Homo sapiens: one gene and its partners. The protein of the gene in region 1 interacts with the protein of each later gene in a pairwise test. Each region holds a gene or a part of one and is shown in the gene's direction. Other genes may lie near its edges.

What was found.
Region 2: the proteins of GTF2B (region 1) and ZSCAN1 interact in binary tests that used the Homo sapiens proteins (3 or more experiments, as listed by UniProt).
Region 3: the proteins of GTF2B (region 1) and PBX4 interact in binary tests that used the Homo sapiens proteins (3 or more experiments, as listed by UniProt).
Region 4: the proteins of GTF2B (region 1) and GOLGA6L9 interact in binary tests that used the Homo sapiens proteins (3 or more experiments, as listed by UniProt).
Region 5: the proteins of GTF2B (region 1) and ANXA8 interact in binary tests that used the Homo sapiens proteins (3 or more experiments, as listed by UniProt).
Region 6: the proteins of GTF2B (region 1) and VSX2 interact in binary tests that used the Homo sapiens proteins (3 or more experiments, as listed by UniProt).
Region 7: the proteins of GTF2B (region 1) and ZNF829 interact in binary tests that used the Homo sapiens proteins (3 or more experiments, as listed by UniProt).

The regions. Positions count from the first base shown.
Region 1 is NC_000001.11:88,881,568-88,885,067, reverse strand, and holds part of GTF2B (transcription initiation factor IIB), read left to right. Parts: intron 1-3,500. UniProt on the Homo sapiens protein: General transcription factor that plays a role in transcription initiation by RNA polymerase II (Pol II). Involved in the pre-initiation complex (PIC) formation and Pol II recruitment at promoter DNA.
Region 2 is NC_000019.10:58,040,525-58,044,024, forward strand, and holds part of ZSCAN1 (zinc finger and SCAN domain-containing protein 1), read left to right. Parts: coding exon 1-20; intron 21-3,500. UniProt on the Homo sapiens protein: May be involved in transcriptional regulation.
Region 3 is NC_000019.10:19,594,688-19,598,187, reverse strand, and holds part of PBX4 (pre-B-cell leukemia transcription factor 4), read left to right. Parts: intron 1-3,500.
Region 4 is NC_000015.10:82,432,816-82,436,234, forward strand, and holds part of GOLGA6L9 (golgin subfamily A member 6-like protein 9), read left to right. Parts: exon of another isoform or gene 1-1; coding exon 2-82; intron 83-746; coding exon 747-834; intron 835-1,218; coding exon 1,219-1,787; intron 1,788-2,053; coding exon 2,054-2,114; intron 2,115-3,151; coding exon 3,152-3,254; intron 3,255-3,419.
Region 5 is NC_000010.11:47,474,116-47,477,615, reverse strand, and holds part of ANXA8 (annexin A8), read left to right. Parts: exon of another isoform or gene 1-373; intron 374-421; coding exon 422-535; exon of another isoform or gene 536-536; intron 537-1,293; coding exon 1,294-1,384; intron 1,385-1,512; coding exon of another isoform or gene 1,513-1,550; exon of another isoform or gene 1,551-2,025; intron 2,026-2,043; coding exon 2,044-2,123; intron 2,124-2,611; coding exon 2,612-2,671; intron 2,672-3,217; coding exon 3,218-3,311; intron 3,312-3,500. UniProt on the Homo sapiens protein: This protein is an anticoagulant protein that acts as an indirect inhibitor of the thromboplastin-specific complex, which is involved in the blood coagulation cascade.
Region 6 is NC_000014.9:74,242,449-74,245,948, forward strand, and holds part of VSX2 (visual system homeobox 2), read left to right. Parts: intron 1-2,716; coding exon 2,717-2,840; intron 2,841-3,500.
Region 7 is NC_000019.10:36,895,792-36,899,291, reverse strand, and holds part of ZNF829 (zinc finger protein 829), read left to right. Parts: intron 1-3,500. UniProt on the Homo sapiens protein: May be involved in transcriptional regulation.

The DNA.
Region 1 (3,500 bases):
AGTAGCTTCAACAGAAACCACATGTGCAGCTCTCATCACTTTTTTTCTGCTGCTCAGCATACTAATTGCAGTGATGCAGTTATAACAGCAACATGTTGATCGCCACATATGTTGCCATACTGCACTATTTTATTTATTTGTTTTTATTACCATTACATATCCATCACACCAAAACAAGAAAAGTTAACTTTGAATGTCATGCTTTTAAGGCATGGTGGAGTATGGATTATTTTGTCACTGAATTAGATGGCAAAACATTGTGTTTATTACACAATGATACTGTAGCTGTGTTAAAAGAATACAGTAAGCGTGGACATTACCATACTGAGCACTCATCAGAATATTTCTAACTCAGGAAAACAATGGTCAGAAAATAATGTAAAATAGAATATCTTAACACAACAGAATTTTTTCACAAAAATAAAAGAATGAAACTGAGGCTGCAACTAAAGTTTCTAAGTGGCTTATTTCTTGGCCAAGCAAGGAAAGCCATTTACCAATGATAGGTTAATTCATATTTGATTGCAACAGCTGAAGAAATGTATGCAGAGAAAATAAATTTATTTAAGACTGTTAGCATCTCACCAAGAACAGTTGCTTGAAGAGTTGAGGACAGTGGAGCAACATCAGTAGTCAATTAAAAGTTAAGGCAAATTAGCTCAGGTATATTTTTCCTTGGCTCTTGATGACTAGATCAATGTTATTGCTGCTTTGCAGTTGTTTATTCAAGAAGTCAGTGTTGGGCGAGGTGCAGCGGCTTACGCCTGTAATCCCAGCACTTTCGGAGGCTGAGGCGGATGGATCATGAGTTCAGGAGTTCAAAACCAGCCTGGCCAAGATGGTGAAACTCCATCTCTACTAAAAATACAAAAATTAGCCGGGCGTGGTGGTGGGCATCTGTAATCCCAGCTTACTCGGGAGGCTGAGGCAGAGAATTGTTTGAACCTGGGAGGCGGAGTTTGCAGTGAGCCGAGATTGCACCACTGCACTCCAGCCTAAGTGACAGAGTGAGACTCTGTCTCAAAAAAAAAAAAAAAAAAAAAAGTCAGTGCTGAGCTTGACAGAAGAACTAGCTCCAGTGAGTAGTCTACATGGAACAGCTATAGGAGAAAATAGCTTCAAAGCAGTTGCAAAAGTGTTAATTCAGTATAACCTGAGGTGGAATCTGCTAAGATTTATTATAACTGATAAGGGTAAAAATATGTGGAGCAGAAGACTTAGTGGAACAGATTTGCCAAGATTGAAAACGTAAGGTGTTTAAAAAGCCTATTACATTATTCATCAGCAGTACTTTGTTAGAGAAGACTTTAATCTACCTTGTGTTATTTAACCAGTAATTGTGAACAATGAACTTCATTCACTCTTGTGCACGTAACTATCAATATCAGTTCTGTGACTTTTTTTTTGAGACAGAGTCTCACTCTGTTTCTCAGGCTGGAGTGCAGTGGTGCGATCATGACTCACTTCAGCCTCAACTCCTGGGCTCAAGCAGGACCCTGGCTAATTTTTTTTTTTTGGTACAGATAGGGTCTCACAGCGTTGCCCAGACTAGTCTTGAACCCTGGCCTCAAGTGATCTTTTTGCCTTGATCTCCCAAAGTGCTGGGATTATAGGTGTGAGCTATCATGCTCAGCCAGTTTTGTGACATTTTGTTAGAAATAGAAGCTGAATATTTCTAACAAAATACTGTTAGGGTGACTTGTCTTAATGACACACTAATCTGGTGACTTAGCAGTAGCAAAGTTTTGTTGTGATTTTTCTGAACTCGGGGCCAAGAGTAAGATTTTTCTGAATCAGTACTGCCTTCGGCTACTGCTGTTGAACACTGGATGGTTTTGAAAATTAGCTTTTGCTGCAAACTTGCTAATATGTCTTAATGAATTCATCATAGAGTTACAAGGCAAAATACTGCTTTTCTGTGAAACATAAAGTGCAGTAAAGTCAATTTCACAAGTTAACATTTGAATCATAAGTAATGTCAAATTGCTTTTATATACTTTATATACTTCCAGTGGTGTCAGAAGTTAAAATAGGATGTTCATTACCACATAGATTTGCAGCAGATATATTTTCCAGGCTCAAGCTATATTTTCAGCAGTGTTTTTCAGACTTGAATGCAAATGCAAAGGAAATTTTCATATTTCAAAATTTGTTTTCACTGTACAGTTAAGGGGGTTCCATCTAACCTTCAGTTGGTAGTGACTAATCTGCAGTGTAACAGTATGTTAAAAGGCCATTATCAGGAGAAGAATGTAATACAATTCTATGAATGCCTTCCAAGCAATAAATATGCTCAATTAAAATCATACACTTGTGGATTAATATCGGTATTTGGCATTACTTGTCTATGCGAAAAGAAAGTGAAATACATAAAATCTTGTTAACACAACATCATTGACACATGAACATTTGTCATTGATTTTGATAGAGAACATTAACTTTGAACTCCAATTAAGTGAAATGTGATCCCCAAAAGAGAATTTTATTTTCCTCATTAGTAGACATGTAAGTACCTACTTAATATCCTGAATTTTGCCTCTTGACCCACAAAACCTAAAATACTTACTATGTCACCCTTTACAGAAAATGTTTGCTTAACCCTTCAGTTAAATGAGAGCCTTCCAGTTCTTCCACAGTGTTAAGATCAAACTGATAATGTGTACGAGTGAGACAGACATACATGAGATTGAAGATAATTTCAGCTTCTTAGCTCTCCTAACCTCTGTAGCGTTTTTTTTTTTTTTTTTTTTTTTTTTTGGAGTGAGAGTCTCCCTCTGTCCCCCAGGCTGGAGTGCAGTGGCACGATCTCCGCTCACTGCAGCCTCTGCCTCCGGGGTTCAAGCGATTCTTGTACTTCAGCCTACTGAGTACCTGGGATTACAGGCATGCACCACCACACCCACCTAATTTTTGTATTTTTAGTAGAGACAGGGTTTCACCACGTTGTCCAGGCTAGTTTTAAACTCCTGGCCTCAAGTGTTCCACCTGCCTCGACCTCCCAGCGTTCTGAGTTTACAGGCGTGAGCTATGGCACCTGGCCCATTTTTAAATAATGTAAAAGTATCCCATTATATTTTCAGCCTTCCCACCAGCCTCACTTCCACTTTAACCAGCAAGACAGTGGAGATTAATCAACTGAAAAAGGAAGATACAATTCACAAGACTTGTATGCTTTCTTGTGCTTGGAATTCCTAATTTTTGCTTGTACTTTTCTGCTATATCAAACCAAAGGAAGTTAATTTTGTTTTTGCTTTTATTGACTTACTAGTATCAAACACCATGTTAAATCTTGAGATCTGAAAAACATATCCAATAAAACTTACTTTCTATAATATATGACAGTATTTCTTTTTGATACTGATTCTTCTAACATAAAATATAACCAACACTTATTTTAAAATATACGGTAGGCTCATTCATAGATATTTGTGGTTAAATGTGTAATATATCTTGTAAGCGAAGAATCCATTCCATTACCAAACAAGGGCAGGTGTAGAAGA
Region 2 (3,500 bases), on another chromosome or scaffold:
CCCAGAAAGAACCATCGCAGGTGAGCCCGGGGCCCCCAGCTCCGTGCTCCTGCACCCCAGGGCATGCGTGCCGCTTCTGGGACGGCCTCAAGGATGCCCCATCCAAGGACTGTGTGAGGTTGTCCCCAGCGCTCCCAGGAAGCCCGGCCTCCAAACTCCCCGCCTGCCCCACAGATTCCCCAAGCTTCCTGGGGCTCAGTGCTGGGCGAGGGCAGTCAGTGCAGCTGTGTGTTTGCTGTGTGCCTCTGGGCCTCACCCCAGCCCCTCCTGTCCTTTCCCAGCCTCGCAGTTAAGACCCATCCTCCTGTGTCACCCGCACCAGATGCTGCGTGTGTTGAGAAAGTCCTGCTGCCCCGATCATCTTCCCTCAGTGAACCCAGGATTCTGGGCGGGCCCAGAAGGAAATGCTGAGGGCTCCCCTGCAGCTAGACCTGCTGTTGCGCAGGCCTCAAGGCGACGGGAGGGGCCCGGCTCGGTTGGGAGCCAAGCGGATCTCTGTGTGGCTGGAGAGATTAAAATCAGGGGTGGGGACACGCAGACACATGAGAGAAATCCAGGGGTAATGGGTAAATCACAAAAGAACAAAAGTAAGAACTGCTAAGTGAGTAGCATGTGTTCGTATGATCAGGGCTACTGAGTTTGACCACTTTCTGCCTCTGGATCTTGGTATTGGAGCCGCCAAGGGAAACACAGCACGGTCGAACAATGAATGGAGCAAGGTTTTGCTCACAGACCAGAGACCGGGCCAGAGCACCATCTGCCCATGTGGCTGTCAGGCCGGGGCCAGCAGGTCCCTCCTAGAGGGGTCCTGACCTAACAGTGGGGCTGTCTAGGTGCCACGTGAAGCACACGCCTGAGCAGAACAAAGGGGCACACATTGGGAAACAGAGACCTCCACACGAGGCACTACACCCAGCACAAACTGGGGGGACCCCTTATCTCTTGGTAAGGAGATGTTCTAGGCCCAGGACCCACTCTCAGGCAGCCAAGTAACAGGCTGAAAGACTGCACATGTGTGTCTCCCACTGGCTTAGTCCGTTCTGGGTGCTGTAACAAAATACGGCTGGGTGTGGTGGCTCATCCCGGTAATCCCAGCACTTTGAGTGAGGCCTCACGGGAGGCTGAGGTGGGAGGACCACTTGGTCCCAGGAGTTCAAGAGCAGCCTGGGCAACATGGCAAGACCCCATGTCTTAAAAAAAAATGAGCCAGGTGTAGGGGTGTGCACCTGTAGTCTTAGCAACTCTGGAGGCTGAGGTAGGAGGATCACTTGAGCCCAGGAGTTCAAGGCTGTAGTAAGCTATGATCATGTTTCTACACTCCAGCCTGGATGACAGAGTGAGACCCTAACTCAAAAAACATCAACAGCCGGGCACAGTGGCTCACGCATGTAATCCCAGCACTTTGGGAGGCTGAGGCAGGCGGATCACAAGTTCAGGAGTTCAAGGAAGAAGGAAGTAACTTGTGGAATGCTGAGAAAGGTAAAAACACCTTCAAATAAGGAAGAGGAACAGGCTATGACCTAATGCTTGCTTGGACCAGTATAGGCACACCAGGGCAAATATTTAGGCTAAATTGTGGGAGCTAAGAACATAAAGTACATTGATTTTTTTTATTATGGCTAGCAGATATATAAGAATGTTAGCACAGGTCTTTGAATAAATTTTGCTTCTAAGAGAAGTTACTATTTATTCCTAATTAGATGGGGAGGAAAGTCTTTGAAGAGGAACTTCTACTTTACTTTTTTTTTTTTTTAATGGAGTCTTGCTCTGTAGCCCAGGCTGGAGTGCAGTGGCGCGATCTCGGCTCACTGCAAGCTCTGCCTCCCGGGTTCACGCCATTCTCCTGCCTCAGCCTCCGGAGTAGCTGGGACTACAGGCGCCCGCCACCTCCCCGGCTAATTTTTTTTGTATTTTTAGTAGAGACGGGGTTTCACCGTGTTCACCAGGATGGTCTCGATCTCCTGACCTCGTGATCCACCCGCCTCGGCCTCCTGAAGTGCGTGAGCCATCGCGCCCGGCCCTAAAATAGATTTAAAGATCATCATGAGAGCCCCTCTCCTGCACCAAAACAAAGTTTCGTGGGCCGTGGTTTCTGTTTCTGCATCTAACGGAGGCATCTAACCTGGGTAGACCACAGTTGTTGGCCACGGGCTTCCTCAGCCGCTGCCGGCAGATGTGCTTATCTGACTCCCTCTCCCATCCCAGACGCCACGTGGAAACCACAGCCGCGCTCACAGGCCATCCCCTCACCACACGGCAACTCCAAGGACTCTCTTTTTGCGGGGGTCGTAGGTGGGGAAGGCTGCTGAGGTCCTCCCACCCCTCTCCCACCAGGGCCGCTGTGGCTGAGAGGATCCTCGTTGGCGCTGGTTTAGGCTGTGGGGCTCAGCCACAGCAGGGTGCCCCAACGTCCCTGAGCGAGCTGCACTTGTGGAGGGAGAGGCCTTAGGCCTGAGGCCTGGCGCCCGCGTGGAGAGACGGCAGCTCCGGGATCGGGGCGCTGGTGAGCGCGGCCCCAGGCATTGCCGCTGCCAGGGTGCTAACACTGCCTGAGGCACCTCTGCTTTTGAAGTCGCCGGGGATTAGCGGGAGCGTAGGTGAGGGACAGGTGGAGCTGCTCTGCGCGGGGCAGCCCGGCTCGCCAGGAGGCGCTGTGGAGTGGGCACGACTGGCGATCGCTGAGCGCATACAACCGCCTACCATCGGAAGCCTTTTGAGAAATGCTTCCTTAGGCGGTTTCGTCACCGTGCATACATCGCAGAGGGCACTCACACACCTACACGCACAGCCCATGGCTCCTAGGCTACAGACCTGCACAGCACGGGGCTGCACTGAATACTGTGGGCAACGGTAACACAATGTTGTTTGTGGATTTAAACATAGAAAAGGTACAGTAAAAATACAAAATAGAAGATAAAAAACAGTACACTTGTATAAAGCACTTGCCAGGAAGGGAGCTTGTGAGACTGGAAGTTGCTCTGGGTGAGTCTGAGTGGTGAGTGAATGTGAAGGCCTGGGAGGTTATTGTGCTGTGGACTTCATAAACATGGTGCACTTAGGCTACTAAATTGGCAACTATATTTCCTTCTTCAATATAATTTATCTTACTGTAAGTTTTTGCTTTACATTTTTTTTTTCTTTCTTAGACTGACTCTCACTCTGTCACCCAGGCTGGAGTGCAGTGGCACGATCATGGCTCACCGCAACCTCAACCTTCTGGGCTCATGCGATCTTCCTACCTGAGTCTTCTGAGTAGCTGGGAACACAGGCACACATTACCGCACCGGCTAATTTTTATATGTTTTAAAATTTTTTTAGTTTTTGTGTAGATGGGGTTTCACTATGTTGCCCAGGCTGGTCTCAAACTCCTAGGCTCAAGCGATCCTCCCTCCTCAGCCACCCAAAGTGCTGGAATTACAGGCGTGAGCCACTGTGCCTGGCGTAAAAAACTTTCTGACTCTTGGGGCCGGGCGCGGTGGCTCACGCCTGTAATCCCAGCA
Region 3 (3,500 bases), on another chromosome or scaffold:
AACCAGGAAATTACGCTGAGTACAATGATCTTTAACTGAACTACAGACCTCATTTGGAGTTCCCCAGTTTTTGCCCTAATGCCCTTTTCTGCCCTGAATCCCACGTTGTATTTAGTCATCATGTCTCTTTGGTCTCCTGTGATCTGTGACCTTGTCATCCATGAATGACGCTGACCATTTTAAGAAGCGCTCAGTCATTTTGTAGAACATCCCTCAGTGCGGTTTGTCTGATGTTTCCTCTAGATTGGACTGAAGTTGTGCATCTGTGGCCAGAGTCCCACAGAGGCAATGTGTGTGTCCTCAGCACATTGTGTCAGGGAAAACATGCTGTCAATATGTCCTGTCACTGCTACCATTGACCTTGATCACTTGGTCAAGGTTAATAACAATTTGAAAGTAGCTTATAAGTGGGGCCACCAAATAAGATGAAGATATTTAAACCAAGGGTCATCTGCACAACGTGTCACTTGATTTCTTAGAGTGAGTTGGTCTCTTGAGGTCAATTATTTGAATTTTGTGTGTCACTTTGGAGCATAGCACTTCATATTTGCTGAGGCTTGTGGAAAGTGTGTGTATATGTTGTACAAAAGTGTGCTTCTTTCTGAACACTGTTTTGGTGCAAGATTGATGTGTACTTGACATATATAGTAGTTGAGAACAGCAAGAGGGTCTGAATTCTGCCTCCACCTCTGGCTGCATGACCCTGGTCCTTGGCTGAACCTTTCTCTGTTCCTGGTCCTCCTCTGATTTGTGGGGCAATAATAATACTTAGCTCATGGTTACTGAGGACTGTTGAGGGCTGTGTGAATTCATATATGTAAGGCTGTGGGCATGGTGCCCAGCCTTCAGAAGAGATCTGGTGACTAAAGGAGAAATTCAAGTTTAAATCTACATTTAAGTTTCGCCTAAATGCTATGAGGACATGATGTCCCTAACCCTCCCCAGTGTAAATTTATTTTTATTTTTATTTTTTGGAGATGGAGTTTCACTCTTATTGCCCAGGCTGGAGTGCAATGGCACGATCTTGGCTCACTGCAATCTCCGCCTTCCAGGTTCAAGCAATTCTCCTGCCTCAGCCTCTGAGTAGCCGGGATTACAGGCGCCTGCCACCACACCCAGCTAATTTTTTGTATTTTTTATTAAAGATGGGGTTTCACCATGTTGGCCAGGCTGGTCTTGAACTCCTGACCTCAGGTGATCCGCCTGCCTGTCTGCCTCCCAAAGTGCTGGGATTACAGGCGTGAGCCATCACACCTGGCCTTTTTTTTTTTTTTTTGGAGACAGGGTCTCACTCTGTCACCCAGGCTGGAGGGCAGTGACATAATCTTGGCTCACTTCAGCCTCCTGGGTGGGTGATCCTCACACCCCATCCTCCCAAGTAGCTGGGACTACAGGCACGAGCCACGTTGCCCAGCTAATTTTTGTATTTTTTGTAGAGAGAGGGTTTTGTCATGTTGCCCAGGCTGGTCTCAAACTCCTGGCCTCCCAAAATGCTGGGATTATGTGTGTGAGCCACTGTGCCCAACCAGGCTCATATTCTGTTCTGCCTCTGCCTGCTTCACCCAATTCTCTAAGGAGCCCTGATTCCTTTCAGAGTAAATCTTGGCCTTTGATGTGCTCATTGCTGTTGGGGTGTTGCTGCTCTTGGACACTCTTAGGACACAGAGCTAAGGAATATTTGTGGGTTATTACAGATGCGTGTGTACACACACACACGTGCGCACACATTCACATCTGTTTTCCTATGTTTTTATATATTAAAAACCATGAGTTCATTATGATATCTTTATTTTTGTTTGTTTATTTATTTATTTATTTATTTATTCTCACTCTGTTGCCCAGCCTGGAGTGCAGTGGTGCAATCTCAGCCTCCCAGGTTCAAGCATTTCTCCTGCCTCAGCCTCTGAGTAGCTGGGATTATGGTGTGCACCACCACGCCTGGCTAATTTTGTATTTTTAGTAGAGACAGGGTTTCATCATGTTGGCCAGACTCGTCTCAAACTCCTGACCTCAAGTGACCTGCCCGCCTCAGCCTCCCAAAGTGCTGGGATTAGAGATGTGATCCACCGCACCCAGCTTATTTTTATTTTTGAGACAGGGTCTCACTCTGTCACCAGGCTGGAATGCAGTGGTGAAGTCACAGCTCATTGCAGCCTCAACCTCCTGGGCTCAAGCAATACTCCCACCTTGGCCTCCCAAAGTGCTGGGATTACATGCATGAGCCACTGTACCTGGCCCACTCCAATATCTTTAATTCTAGTTCACCACAGGGTTCCCACTATTTTTCTCTCTTCCCAGGTTTGTGACTCCTTCCTCCAACAGTGAGAGCCTGCTCCTGTTGTCCTCAGTACTTTTGCTTGTGTAATCAATCTCCCACCTCCTTCACCCCCAAGTATACTTAATCCCCCAGCCAAGCAGACCCCTCCTTGTCCCCACCCCCCAGCAGACTGCTGCTGCTGACAGCCCCCACATGATATGCCCCCTGTTGGTCTCCAACACCCAGTGCCAGGTCATCCTCCCGACGGGGCCAGATGCTGGGCTGTGATGCCCCTGGCTTCCTGCCCACCTCATATGCCTCTCATGGGTATGTAAATATCTGATGACCTGTCTTATCTGTTCCTTATTTAAATTGTGGGGAGCAGATGCCATGGAAATGGAAACACAAAGGTTAGGCTTTCCTGGGGAACCAGACACACAAGTTTCTTGTTAGCGGTGAACTGGTTTTAAGCAAATTTGCCCTCAACTCCCTGGCAGCACTCCCTGATGGTGCTTCAGCATTCGTGTGGTAAGCTGGACAAGCGGGGGCCCTGTACCCGAATGAGCCCCAAGTACTGCAGGCTGAGGGAAGCCGCTCAGAAGGACACAGCCAATGTGTATCCACCCCCTGGAGACACTGGCTGTGGTCACGTGTTTCTTAGTATTGTGGAATTGTGTAATGTTGGTCCCTTTCACTTTTCACCTAATAAAAATAAGCCAGTGTCAGGACCACTTGCTGAGGCATGTGTACCAATAGGCACAGGCAGCCCAAGTTGTCCCTTGCTCACCCCTGACCCTGACCCCAGGAAGCAGCCTTTGGGGGCTCCCCACTGCCCACAGCGGATGTTTAGCAATGCAACATCTGGAATTTAGTAATAATAAAAAACTATTTTAAAAAGTACTTTTTAAAGGCTGGGTGCGGTGGCTCACGCCTGTAATCCCAGCACTTTGGGAGGCCGAGGCAGTTGGACCACCTGAGATCAGGAGTTCGAGACCAGCCTGACCAACATGATGAAACCCCGTCTCTACTAAAAATACAAAAATTAGCTGGGCGTGGTGGCATGCGCCTGTAATCCCAGTTACTCAGGAGGCTGAGGCAGGAGTATCACTTGAACCCAGGAGGCAGAGGTTGCAGTGAGATGACATTGCGCCACTGCACTCCAGCCTGGGTGACAGAGTGAGACCCTGTCTAAAAAAAAAAAGTACTTTAATCAACTGTAGTCTCAGGAAGCTGTCATTCTTGA
Region 4 (3,419 bases), on another chromosome or scaffold:
GAGCCAGTACCAAGAACTAGCAGTAGCCCTGGATTCAAGCTCCGCAATAATCAGTCAACTCACTGAAAACATCAATTCACTGGTAAGAGTCCAGTGGGGTCCCCTGATTACAGCTGGTCAATCCTGGACTCCAGTTTCCTCTTGGGGCCCTGAAGAAAGGGGCTAGGGGCCCCTGATGCCAAGGGCAAATGGGGAGCTGGGCACCCAGGTCTCACCTGGAGGGACCCCAGAGCACAGAACATGCAGCATGGCTCTTCTGCACTGCCCTCTTTGCTGACTCTCTCTTCTCCAGACACCCCTGCTCTAGTCCTTGCCACACATGCCCTGGGGTTGTCACCTCTCTGGGAAGCACTAGCCTGACTGGTTGTCAGAGGTCCATATTCCTGCCCTGCCTCAGTCCCTAATTTGCTTTTTGAGTCTGGACAAGCCATCTCTCCTCTTTATGCTCGTGTTTCTGGAGGAGGTAGAGAGTATCAAAGGTCTCGGTTAGCTCTGAAAGTCAGAGATTTAAAGGCCCCTAGAATGGAAAGCTCAGGGCGAAGGGCTCCTGTCTGTCCTTTGCTGTTTTATATCTCTGCTATGAAGAACTGTACCTGGCCTGTACATGCTCAGTAAATGTTTGTTGAATGAATGCACGTTTCTAAATCACAAACTGGCAGAAGGGGGGTGGGCCTTTCTCAAACTCTGTCTCTGGACGTTCACCAGCCCCTCCCTCCAGTACCCTTTTCCCCCTTTGCTTTGGGCAGGTTCGCACATCTAAGGAGGAGAAGAAGCATGAGATACATCTGGTACAGAAGCTTGGGAGGAGCTTGTTCAAACTCAAAAACCAGACGGGTAAGATGGGGCTGGCATGACCTGGCAGCTGGACTGGCATTAGAGGGCTGTGGGGGTGACTTAGAATGCCCCAGGGAGGTGGGTGGATGGAAGGGCTTTGAGGCAGAGGGAAAGAGGTCTGTGCCAGGGGAGGACAAGTCTTGTCATCTCCATGAGCCTCAGTGTCCCCATCAGTAAAGAGGGAGGAGTGCCCATTGTCAGCCACCCACAGTGCTCTCTATCTGAAAGTGACTTGGAAGATTGTCTACCATCCGGGTGTGAGGAGTCATTAGCAGTGAGGCCAAGTTTGGGAAGCCTGAGAGGAGGAGCTGTGCACCAAAGGGAGGATTTTTTTTTTTTTTTTTTGAGAATCCAGAGGCCCTTATTCTCTGCTTGCTTTCTCAGCTGAACCCCTGGCCCCACAGCCCCCAGCAGGGCCATCTAAGATGGAGCAGCTACAAGATGAGACCAACCACCTAAGGAAGGAGCTAGAGAGTGTGGGAAGACAGCTCCAGGCTGAGGTGGAAAACAATCAGATGTTGAGTCTCCTGAACAGGAGACAGGAGGAGAGGCTACGTGAACAGGAGGAGAGGCTACGTGAACAGGAGGAGAGGCTGTGTGAACAGGAGGAGAGGCTGTGTGAACAGGAGGAGAGGCTACGTGAACAGGAGGAGAGGCTGTGTGAACAGGAGAAGCTGCCAGGGCAGGAGAGGCTGCTGGAAGAGGTGGAGAAGCTGTTAGAACAGGAGAGGCGGCAGGAGGAGCAGGAGAGGCTGCTGGAGAGGGAGAGGCTGCTGGACGAGGTGGAGGAGCTCCTGGAGCAGGAGAGGCTTCGGCAACAGGATGAGAGGCTGTGGCAGCAGGAGACTCTGCGGGAGCTGGAGAGGCTGCGGGAGCTGGAGAGGATGCTGGAGCTGGGGTGGGAAGCCCTGTACGAGCAGCGGGCCGAGCCACGCAGCGGCTTCGAGGAGCTGGTGCGTTGCCCCACCTGGGGAGGCTGCCCTCTTCCCTAGCCCTCAAGGCCTTTGTTTCCCCACCTGTAAAATGGGGCATTGTAGCCTTCACATGAAATGGTACTTCTAAAGGCATCTGTGAGCCAGAGCCCTGCTCTGATGGCTGTGGGAGAGAGGGGATATTTTTCTAACCTGCCTCCACCCTTCCCGGTGCCATGGGAGGCAGACACTAAGTTCTGGGGTCTCCAGTTTTAGTGGGTGGCCACTGATTGCTTCTTTCTGTCCAGAACAACGAGAACAAGAGCACACTGCAGTTGGAGCAGCAAGTAAAGGAGCTGGAGAAGTCGGGTGAGCTGAAAGAGACTGTAACCTCCGACCCATCCAAGAAGATGTGGGAGGCGGGCACCAGCCTCTGGGGAGGGGAGGTGCCAGGCCACAGGCAGCTGCAGCCTGGGGACAGGTGACCCCAGCACCCTCCGGGGCAGTCCTATGACTGTTTCTTGCTTCCTGCCCTCTGACTTTTAGAGGTGGGTAGCCCTGGGGTCCTCCCAGGTCTGGACATCATCATCCCAGCTAGAGGCATGGAGCCCCCCAATCACAGAGGAAGAGACAGTGGTATAAGAGGCTCCTTATGTCGGGTGTGGTGGCTCATGCCTGCAATCCCAGCACTTTGGGAGGCTGAGGCAGGACAATCACTTGAGGTCAGGAGTTTGAGACCAACATGGCCAACATGGTGAAAGCTCATCTCTACTAAAATTAAAAATAATAATAATAATTAGCCAGGCCTGGTGGTGCATGCCTGTAATCCCAGCTACTCAGGAGGCTGAGACACGAGAATCACTTGAGCCCGGGAGATGAAGGTTGCAGTGAGCTGAGATTGCACCACTGCACTGCAGCCTGGGACACAGAGTGACACTCTCTCAAAACAAAACAAAACAGAAAAACAAAAAAGCCTCCTTAGATTCAAACTGGATTCCGGCCTCGGTTCCACTGGTCATAATTCAACTACTTTGCATCTCTAAGTCTCTGTTTCTTTAACTTCAAAAGGAAGTTAGCCTTTTCCTTGCAGAGGTGCTGAGGATTAAATGAGGTAATACGTGGAAACATTAGGCATGTAGCACACTTAGCAGATGGTGGTTGGCTCCGCCTGCTTTTCCACCAGTCTGTGGCCTACAGTTTACATGCTGGGAAAAAGGACGTGAGATTTGATGCTAGGGAAGGAGGCATGGGGTTCTAAGCAAGGGAGACAGTCTCTTAGGCCTGGAGCAAGGGGCCAGGGGCCTGGGCAGGCCACAGAGCCCCACAGTGCCCTCGCTACCCTATTAATGGGCCAGGAATCTGGAAGCCAGCCACCACATGTCCTCATGCCCAGGGTCTTCCGGCAGGTGGAGCTGAAGAGCCAAGAGGCTCCGAGTCTGCAGCAGCAGCCAGACCAGTAGCTGGAGCCCCAGTCCCACAAGGAGCTTGGATGTGCGGACAAGCAGGGTGGTGAGTAGAGCCCTCAGGCGGGGTGGGCAGGCAGGAGCAGGGGAGGCTCGCACTGTGCCCAGATTCCCACCCCCTCCCTCTCTCTGAAGATCTTAGTGAGCTGAGCCTCACTGATAGCATGGAGGCTGCACCGGGAGAGGACAGGGAGGGTTCTCCCCCATGACA
Region 5 (3,500 bases), on another chromosome or scaffold:
GACCTTAGAAGGAGGCACATGTGAGACGAAGTCTTTAATTCAGGCATGCATTCATTCATTGAGTGCCAAGTGACAGGTATTTTATGGTGATGCCATACTCAGAGCTTGCAGTCTAGCTAGCAATACCAATTTCATTTTACTGAGAGCTTATGATGTGCCCAGCACTGCACTGAATGCTGAATTGAGTCACACACAACCCCCTAAGCAACGGGATGAAGCAGGAGCACGTTTCTCTCCGTGTAACCGGTAAAGATACTGATGCTAAGAGAAGCTAAGGAGCTGGCCCAAGAAACCCAGCCAGCACGTGGCAAGGCCCACGCAGAATCCAGCCCAAGCCCCTGGACCCAGCCACCACTCCGCTGCCTGCACTCAGGTGGGCCTGGCTTATGACAAATATCACCTTTCCCTGTTCCCGCATTAGGACCTCACTGAGACCTTGAAGTCTGAGCTCAGTGGCAAGTTTGAGAGGCTCATTGTGGCCCTTATGTACCCGCCATACAGATACGAAGCCAAGGAGCTGCATGACGCCATGAAGGTAACCAGGCAGACAGGGCAGGGGAGTGGCAGGGGTGCTCACATGACTGGGTAGGGGCAATGCGGGGACCGGGAACCTACAGCCCAGAGCTCCCCTTGAGCCACTGTTTGGAATGGCCATATGGGCCATAACTGGGCCCAGTGAGCAGGCAGCCTGCTGCTCAGACTGCACCCAACACCTGGAGTCACTGGTGCCTGATTGACACGTTGAGTGGCCGTGATGAAGCCAAAATCAGTACTTCTCAGAACCTCACGAGCTCAGGTGTACAGTGGTATTGGAAACCCACCTCTACAGTCCCAGGCACAGCCCCTTGGGTTTCCCTTTACCTCTCACTACTCTTTGCTTTTGCAGATTAATAAGGATGGGGACCCAGTAACTATAGTCATTTTGTTTGGAAAGACACTTGCTGCATGGGCACTGCCAGGCATTTTACACCCACGCTCCCTAATCTATCTTTGGCGCAGGGGAGGCTTCTTATTCCTGTTTATGGATCGGGATGCTTAGGCTCCAGGACATGGAGCAGCCTGTCTGAGACCACCCAGCTAAGGAGGGAGAGCTGAGACAGGGCTTCCCCGTCACAGCACTTGCCCTCAATGTTCATCACTGAAGCATGTGATTTTCTCATCACATCCTCCCACTTCAAGTGGGGCAGGGCAGTGAGGTCCTTCCTGAGGCTCAGGCATCTTGAGAAAAGAAGGTGTGGACAGAGCAGAAGGTCATGGCAGAGCACTCCAGCAGGCAGAGGTTTCTGTCCACAGGGCTTAGGAACCAAGGAGGGTGTCATCATTGAGATCCTGGCCTCTCGGACCAAGAACCAGCTGCGGGAGATAATGAAGGCGTATGAGGAAGGTAAGGGGTGGCACAGATGGAGGGGCTCAGGAGTGGCCACAAGCTTTGGCAGCCTGGCAGGGAACAAGGATCAAGAATTAACCTGGGCCACACTAGAAAGGACCCTTTGGGGACTTTTTTACCCACAGGTGCTGAGCACCTACCGTATGCCAAGATCTGTGCCTGATGGTGACACTGAACATGATTCAGACTTGATCTGTAAGCTCACCAGCTCCTCTTACAGGGGAGAGAGGCCTGTGACCAACTAAAATCTCTGCCCTTGAGGACTGTGGTAGTAGGGGGTGTGGACCCCAGGCTAGCAGAGGCCAGTCAGTCCTCCACATCATGTACCTAGTGGGGAGTTTTCCTGGAGGCTTTGGCTTTGCCAAGCCTTGAGATGAAATGGAGCTTGGTTGGCAGCCCCTAGCCTGGCTCTCTGACCTGGTCCATCTTGTGCTTTGAGCTTGGTTGGGTACGCATGTCGCTTCTAGTTGTGAAGCACCACCCAGGCGACAGCCACTTGGACACCCGGGCATTGCATCCATGCCCTGTGCCAAGGACTTTCTTTCCTAGAAGGCTTTAATAAGGAGAAGTATGGGGAACAGGGCTGGAAGGAGGAAAGCAGGCCCCGGGTAGGCTGTGGGCCTCTGCTTGTGCCTCATGGTCCTGTTTCCCTGCAGACTATGGGTCCAGCCTGGAGGAGGACATCCAAGCAGACACAAGTGGCTACCTGGAGAGGATCCTGGTGTGCCTCCTGCAGGTGTCACAGCCTAGGCTCTTGGGAGTGCCTTGGTTTGGGAGTCCCAACAGCTCCACCCCAGGGAGCAGCCCTTGAATAGCGCCACAAGAGTCAGGGTAGGGGCATGGGATAGCCCAGCAGCCAGGGCTCATTGGGTGTGTCTCAGCATGGTTAGAGGGTCCCAACTGCAGAGCCCCCACACCTGTCCTTACTCAGCCATGTGAGAGCATCCTGGAAGCGGGAGGAGAGCAGGTCCTTCGTGCAGGCCTCATGCCAGGCACTTTGCTTACCTTAGCTCACTGAATCCGCCAAGCCTTATGAGGCAGTCCTTACCACCCCCATTGTACAAATGAGGAAACCAAGGGCTGAAGAGAATAACTGGCTTGTCGAAGTTTCCACAGCCAAAGAGCAGCAGAGCCATGCCTGCCCTCCAAGCCCAGGATCCCCCCTGTGCCCTTAATGCTCTGGTCAGCTGGCCTGCCTTACAGAGCCACCTCCTCTGTTCCTAGGGCAGCAGGGATGATGTGAGCAGCTTTGTGGACCCAGGACTGGCCCTCCAAGACGCACAGGTGAGGCTGCGCCCAGCCGGCCATGTGGCCCCACCCCCTGCCATCTGGACTCCGGCTCCTCTGCCCACGGGGGCTTTCTCTGACACTGGGCTGGGACCCACCCAGCTCAGCTCCCTATAGGCCTTTGTCCTGTGGTGTCTGGGGAGGAGAGTGAGGGTGTTGGGAGACTCGGGAGGAAGGAGTGTGACTTGGGGGTGGGGGAGCACTAAAGCTCTGTCCTGGCAGGAACAGCCCATGAACCCGGGGGCGCTAGGCCCCAGTGCTGGACACAGGTGTCCGGGTCTCTGTAGGTCTGCCTGCTGGCAGAGGGAAGTCTGGGGACCAGGCAGTTCCTAGAGCAGCTTGTGGCCCAGGATAGAGAAAATATTCTAAGCCAGAGCTGCTAGAGAAAGGGGAGCTCCCTGTCAGAGACGACCAAGCAGGGGAGCATGCTGGCCTGGCAGAGTGGACAGGGCCAGGCCATGGCCACAGCTCTGGGACTCTGGGGCTCAGTCCCTCACCTCCCTGGTCTCCCTCACTGGCTTATTGTGGGTGTCCCAATGCTAGGATCTGTATGCGGCAGGCGAGAAGATTCGTGGGACTGATGAGATGAAATTCATCACCATCCTGTGCACGCGCAGTGCCACTCACCTGCTGAGAGGTACCAGGGAGGGAGGGGCTGGGGCCGGGGCCACAGGGGGTGTCCTGGCCATGAGCCTCTCCCTCGTGCTTCTGCCTTGTCAAGTCTAGAGTTAGGGAGAGAGCCAGGGAGCCCAGGACTGTTTCCCCAGCCACCAGTGGGAGGTCAGGGCGGCAAATTGATGTGCGATCTCTGATCCGAGACACTGAG
Region 6 (3,500 bases), on another chromosome or scaffold:
CCTCACCCCTTAGGCCCTAATAGGTTTTGGCTTGAATGCAGGTGAACTTCGACTTGGTTTCTCCGGATCTCGGTCTATTCTTTTTCCGGCAGCTGTTTGCATTTGTTTAGTTTGTATTGTTTTATTTTAAAAGGAAAAAGAAAAATTTTTTTGGTCTTGATCTTTGGTCTTTTTTTTTTTTTTTTACATTCAATTCATTCAACGAATATTCATTAAAACACTTTTTATGCACCCATCTTACGCGGGTCCCAGGGTGGGTAATCTTGTCATCTTCCCCAGGCAGGGACAGGGACCTTGCAGGGAGGGCAGGTCAGAGACCGGCAAAACTGCCCTTGTGCTGGTGCCAGGAGGGGTGGGAGGGGTTCCCACAGCATGGAGAGCCCTGGAAAAAGCATCCCCAAACCCTGGGTACAGGAATGGCATTTCCGCATCAGGACATCTCACTGCATGGCACTTAGTGACCGTCTGTTTTCATCTGTCACTCTCTTCGCCAGGAACACCTTTGGGGGTTTTGGTGGGTTTTCATGGGGGCAGAACAGCAACTCACCAACACTCGGGTATTAACTGCCTGGGGTTTCTATTTCTGTTGCATGAAGGGAGAAGGTTATTGGAGAGAGGAGAATGGCTACGGATTTCAAGTGCTTGTTTTAATTAGGAAAAAATACATTTTACTCGAGCTTCTGTCATTTGGGGATTTGGGGTAAGAGACCCTGGAATCTGGTGATGAGAGATGGGCTTATTTTTATCTCCCAGAAACAAACCAGACTTAAAAGCGTTTGGGGGGTGGCGTGGGGACAAAGCAGCCACGGTGAGAGTCTCTCTGATTTTGCTCTTTCTCTCTACTGGGAAAGCTCAGCTCCTCTTCAGACTGGACACAACAGGAGCCTGAAGGGTCTGGGGTTCTGCATAAACCAGGAACACAGGCTGGGTCACATTATGGGGGAAGTGTGTCAGCTCTGAGGCATGAATTAGGGAAAGTTTGGGAGATTTGAGTTTTTGTTTTGTTTTTTGAAGAGGGGCTCTCCGAAGTAGGGACTGAGACTTGAATGGTTCTACATGACCTATAATCGGCTCTCCTCTTTGACTGCCTTTGTGCCTCAGTTTCCCTGGTTTTGGAAAGGACTTGAATTTCTTTATTGTTTATTTTGATGCTCTGTCCATGGGCCCTTCAGCAGATGGCAGAAGCGAAAAAGCAGCAGATCTTCAAAATTCTCAAGAATTAACTTCGTGTGTGCATAAGCATTTCACATCATCACCCCCCACCCCCAGAGAATAGGAGAAACGATTTAGAATCAAACCAGTCATTTTCTGCAAAGAGCACAATCTTTCTTCCCTGAATTATCCCCCGAGATATTAAAGTGGACACCAGCACAAGGATTGTGTGAGGTTCAAATCTGTACTTTTGGGTTGTGTTAGACGAGGGTGAGGGCCCAGCAATAAGGGATTCTACACCCCTGTGCTGGCGCCAGAGTCTGATCCCAGGGGACCAGGCAAGGGCTGGACCATTTCTACCAGTTCAGTTTGTGGACGCTGGACTATATTGCCTGTTGGCTTGTTAATGAGGTTTCAGGATAAAGACCACCCAAAACCTGGTGAAATTAAGGTTTGAAAAGAGAAGAGTTTGTGTCTGGAAGTAGGTGTTTAGCGGTTTATTCAAGAAAGAGGACCTATGAATCCCCTAATGTTGGAGGCAAAATTTTACAAATTGGGGCCTATTTATTTGCCCATTTTCCTAAGGTGAGAGAATGTAGTTTTTACCAGATTCTTAAAGCAGTTTATAACACAAAATAGATCCATATGAACTGCTCTGTTGGGGGTGGGGAACTGTGCCTGTGGGCTCTCAGGGTGGCCCGAATGGAACCCCCTGCAGGTGAGTGGCTGAGCTTGCAAGTATGGGATGGTTGGAAGGTGGCCCTTCCCTTGTCAGCACAGAATAGGACTGGAAAAGGCTCGGGGCAGTGCTGGGAGGCTGGTAGGTCTGGGTGATGTCGAGGAAGGGCAGGGGAGGAGGAAGGGGTGCTGGGGGGAGTTGAGGGAGTGGGAGATTCAGTTCTCTGCTGTATAAACACTGAGGTTGAGGCTGCATTTGACCTTCCGGTGAATCTTCTAACTTTGAAAGGCATTCAAAAATTCAGCTCTAGTGACTGTGAGAGGGGCCCAGGAAGCTGGTCTGGGTGGAGCTGGGCTATTTAGTAATCTGGTAAGCCCCTCTTCTCTGTGCTTGGGAGGAAGAGGGGCTTTCTGCTTTTCTAGAATGTCCTTCTTCTGGGACAGCCTTTCCCCCAGAGCACCTCCAGAAAGATTCCCAGTGTGAAATGTCACTGAGGGCTGAAATAATGGCCACCCCCCAAACACAGGAAGGGTAGTGTGAGCCCTCAGCCTTGAGGAAGAAGAGTCCGGAGGGTTAAACTATGAGACAGAGAGAGAGAGAAAGTGTGTGTGTGTGTGTGTGTGTGTGTGTGTGTGTGTGTGTGTGTGTGTGAAAGAGAGAGAGAAAGTGTGTGTGTGTGTGTGTGTGTGTGTGTGTGTGTGTGAGAGAGAGAGAGAGAGAGAGAGAGACAGAGAGAGAGAGAGAGAGAGAATTTGTGTCCTATTGTGCTGAGCCAGCCTGGGTTCGGGGCCTGCCCAGGAGACACAGAGGAAGGCGGTTCTGTCTTGTCTGAGACAGGCTCTTTTAGTTTCTGGGGTCCTGAGTGTTCGGTCTTGCTCCCCTCAGGACAATCTTTACCTCCTACCAGCTAGAGGAGCTGGAGAAGGCATTCAACGAAGCCCACTACCCAGACGTCTATGCCCGGGAGATGCTGGCCATGAAAACGGAGCTGCCGGAAGACAGGATACAGGTAACAGCCCTGAGCCCCTCTCCCCTCCACTCTCCCCTCTCTCGGTGACATCTACCACTCCAGGGTTCCAGATGCCCATGACCCCGCCTCCCAGCCCCACTGTGGGCATGTGCTTGCCTATGATCATGTTCTCAGCCTATTTAAGCTGAACACCTGCCACATGAGGTGGGTGCTGTCGGGGGATGAGAAGCACCCAGTTGTGACCTGGCTGTTGTTCCAGACTATAGGCTTCCCGGGGAGTATGTCAGACAGACCCTGCGGGGGTCTGGGGATGAGAGGTGGAGTACTGGAGGGGCCCCCGGTCCTGGGCAGGGTCTCTGTTGAGGCGGAGGTCCCTTTGGTACAGCTAAATGTCTGTTCCAAGGCCAGAGGGTGCCCCAGGCCTCTGGGTAGCTGTGAAGAGGAAGGTGGCTTCTAGTCCTGACCCCAGTCTGTTTCCCTCCCCTCTCCTCCCCTCCCCATGATGAAAGTGTTACCCCTTCTCTTCCTGCTTCCCACCACTCCATCCACCTAAGGCTCCTTCCTCCCACACACAGCCCAGCAACTGCTGCCCTGACCTGCTGCTCCTTTTCTTCTCCCAGGTTTGGCCTAGGATGTGAGCTGGGGCATGGCCCTGCAGGTGGCTCACTAAGCCCTCCTCCTCTCCTGGGCAGTTTTGTG
Region 7 (3,500 bases), on another chromosome or scaffold:
AAAACTGTTTATAGAGATCGGGGGGGGTCTCCCTATGTTCCCCAGGCTGGTCTTGAACTCCTGGCCTCAAGTGATCCTCCTGACTTGGCCTCCCAATGTGCTGGGATTACAGTTATGAGCCGCTATGGCACTGCTATTAAGTTTTTTTGCTTCCTTGTTAATTCTGGATATTAGTCCCTTCTCAGGTGAAGAGTTTGCAAATATTTTCTCCCATTCTACAGGTCTCTTCACTCTGCTGATTGTTTCCTTTGCTGTGCAGAAGCATTTTAGTTCAATATAGTCCAATTTGTCTATTTTTTTGTTGTTGCCCCTTATTGAAAATATCTTTGAGGTCTTATCTAAAATATATTTGCCTATTCTTCTGAAGTGTTTCCCCTATGTTTTCCTGCAGTAGTTTTATAATTTGGGGTCTTATAGTTAAGTATTTAATTCATTTTGAGTTTATTTTTGTATATGGTGAGAGATACAGTCTAGTTTCATTCTTCACTATATGGATAACCAGTTTTCCCAGCACCATTTATTGAACAGCGTGTCCTTTTCCCTATGTCTGTTCTTGGCACCTTTGTCAACCATCAGTTGACTATAAATACATGGATTTATTTGTGGGTTCTCTCTTCTGTTCCATTGGTCTTTGGGTCTATTTTTATGACAGTACCATGCTGTTTTGGTTACGACAGCTTTGTAGTATATTTTGAAGTTTGATTCTTCCACTTTTGTTCTTTCGCTACAGATTGCATTGGCTATTTGGCATTTTTTATGGTTTCCTACAAATTTTAGGATTTTTTTTCCTGTTCATGTAAAAACTGACTGGCATTTCAGTCGGGATTGCATTGAATCTGTAGATTGCATTGAATCTGTAGATTGCTTTGGGAAGTATGTTCATTTTAACAATAGTTCTTCCAGTGCATAAGCATGCAAATATCTTTTTATTTGTTTGTTGTCTTCAATTTCTTTTGTCTGTGTTTTGTAGTTTTCCTTACAGAGGTCTTTCACTTCATGGTTAAATTTATTTCTAGGTTGTTTTTTGTAGCTATTATATTAATAAATGGGATTGTTTTCTTGATTTCTTTTTCAGCTAATTCATTATTGTGGATGTATAGAAATCCTTTTTTTTTCCCTTTTTGAGACAGAGTTTTGCTCTGTCTCCCAGGCTGGAGGAGTGCAATGGCATGATCTCAGCTCTCTGCAGCTTCCACCTCCTGGGTTCAAGCAGTTCTGCCTCAGCCTCCCACGTAGGTGGGACCACAGGTGCCTGCCACCACACCTGGCCAATTTTTGTATTTTTAGTCAAGACAAGGTTTCACCATGTTGGCCAGGCTGGTCTCAAACTCGTGACCTCAAGTGATCCACCCACCTCGGCCTTCCAAACTGCTGGGATTATAGGCGTGAGCCACCGTGCCCAGCGTACTACTTATTTTTGTATATTGATTTTGTATCTTGCAACTTTACTGATTTCATTGATCAGTTCCAAGAATTTCTGGTGGCATCTTTAGGTTTTTAAATATATGTAAGATCATGTCATCTGTAAAGGGACAGTGTGACTTTCTATTATCCAATCTGGATGCCTTTTATTTCTTTCTCTTGCCTGATTGCTCTGGATAGGACTTCCAGTACTATATTGAATAATAGTGGTGAATGTGGGCTTCTTTATCTTGTTCCAGTTCTTAGAGGAAAAGCTTTCGGCTTTTCCCCATTCAGTATGGTGTTAGCTGTACGTTTGTCATATATGGTCTTTATTATGTTATGTTTTTTAATGCCTAATCGTTGAGAGGTTTTTATAATGAAGAGACGTTGAAGTTTATCAGATGTTTCTCTGCATCTATTGAGCTGATCATATGGTTTTTATCCCTCATCCTGTTGATCTGATACATCATGTTTATTGATTTGCTTATGTTGAGCCATCCTTGCACTTTTCAGGAAAAATCTCACTTAATCGTTGTATATTATCTTGTTGTTGTATTATTGGATTTCATTTGCTAGTATTTCATTGAGGGGTTTTGTGTCTATGTTCATGAGGGATATCACCTCTTTTTGTTGTTGTTGTTGTGTCCTTCTCTGGTTTTGGTATCAGGGTAATGCTGGCCTTGTAGAATGGATTAGGAAGAATTAACTTCTCTTCCATTTTTTGGAATAGTTTGAGAAAAACTGAGGTTAGTTATTTGTAATTTTGGTAGGATTCAGCAGTAAAGCCCTTTAGTCTTGGGCTTTTTTTGTTGGGAGACATTTTACTATTGCTTCAATCTCATTACTCGTTATTGGTCTGCTCAGGTTCTTCTGCTCTGTTTCTTCCTGGTTCAGTCTTGGTAGGTTTTCATGTATCCAGGAATTTTTCTGTTTCCTCTAGGTTATCTGATTTGTTAGCATATAGTTGCCTGTAGTAGTCTTTGATGATCTTTAATTTCTTAATTGACCCAATGGGCATTCATGAGCAAGCACATTGTTTAAATTTCCATTTATTTGTGTGGTTTACAAAGTTTTTGTTATTGATTTCTAGTTTTATTCTAGTGTAGTCTGAGAAGATACTTGATATGATTTCAATTTTTAAAAATTAGTTATAACTTGTCTTATGGCCTAACGTATGGTCTCTTCCTGGAGGATGTTCCATGTGCTGATAGGAACAATGTGTATTCTGCAGCTGTTGGATAAAATGTTCAGTTAGTGTCTGGTAGGTCCATTTGGTCTAATATCCAGTTTAAATCCAAAGCTGTTGATTTTCTATCTAGATGAACTGTCTAATGCTGAGAGTGGGATGTTCAAATCCCGTACTATTATTTTATGGGAGTCTACCTTTTTTTGTTGTTGTTTTTTTGAGACAGAGTCTAGTTCCGTCGCCCAGGCTGGAGTGCAGTGGCACAATATTGGCTCACTGCAACCTCTGCCTCCCAGGTTCAAGCAATTCTCCTGCCTCAGCCTCCTGAGTAGCTCGGATTACAGGTGCATGCCACCACGCCCAGCTAATTTTTTTTTCTTTCTTTTTTTTTTTTTGACAGTCTTGCTCTGTCACCCAAGCTGGAGTGCAGTGGTGCGAACCCGGCTCACTTCAGGCTCCGTCTCCCAGGTTCACACCATTCTCCTGCCTCAGCCTCCCGAGTAGGTGGGACTACAGGTGCCTGCCACCATGCCTGGCTAATTTTTTGTATTTTTAGTAGAGACGAGGTTTCACCATGTTAGCCAGGATGGTCTCAATCTCCTGACCTCGTGATCTGCCTGCCTCAGCCTCCCAAAGTGCTGGGATTACAGGCATGAGCCACCGCGCCTGGCCACACCCAGCTAATTTTTGTATTTTTAGTAGAGACAGGGTTTCGTCATGTTGGGAAGGCTGGTCTCGAACTCCTGACCTCAAGTGATCCTCCCGCCTTGGCCTCCCAAAGTGTTGGGATTACAGGCATGAGCCACCATGCCCAGCCCTATCTCTCTTTTTAGATCTAATAATATTTGCTTATATATCTGGGTGCTGCAGTGTTGAGTGCCTATAAATTTAGAACTTTATATCCTCTGGC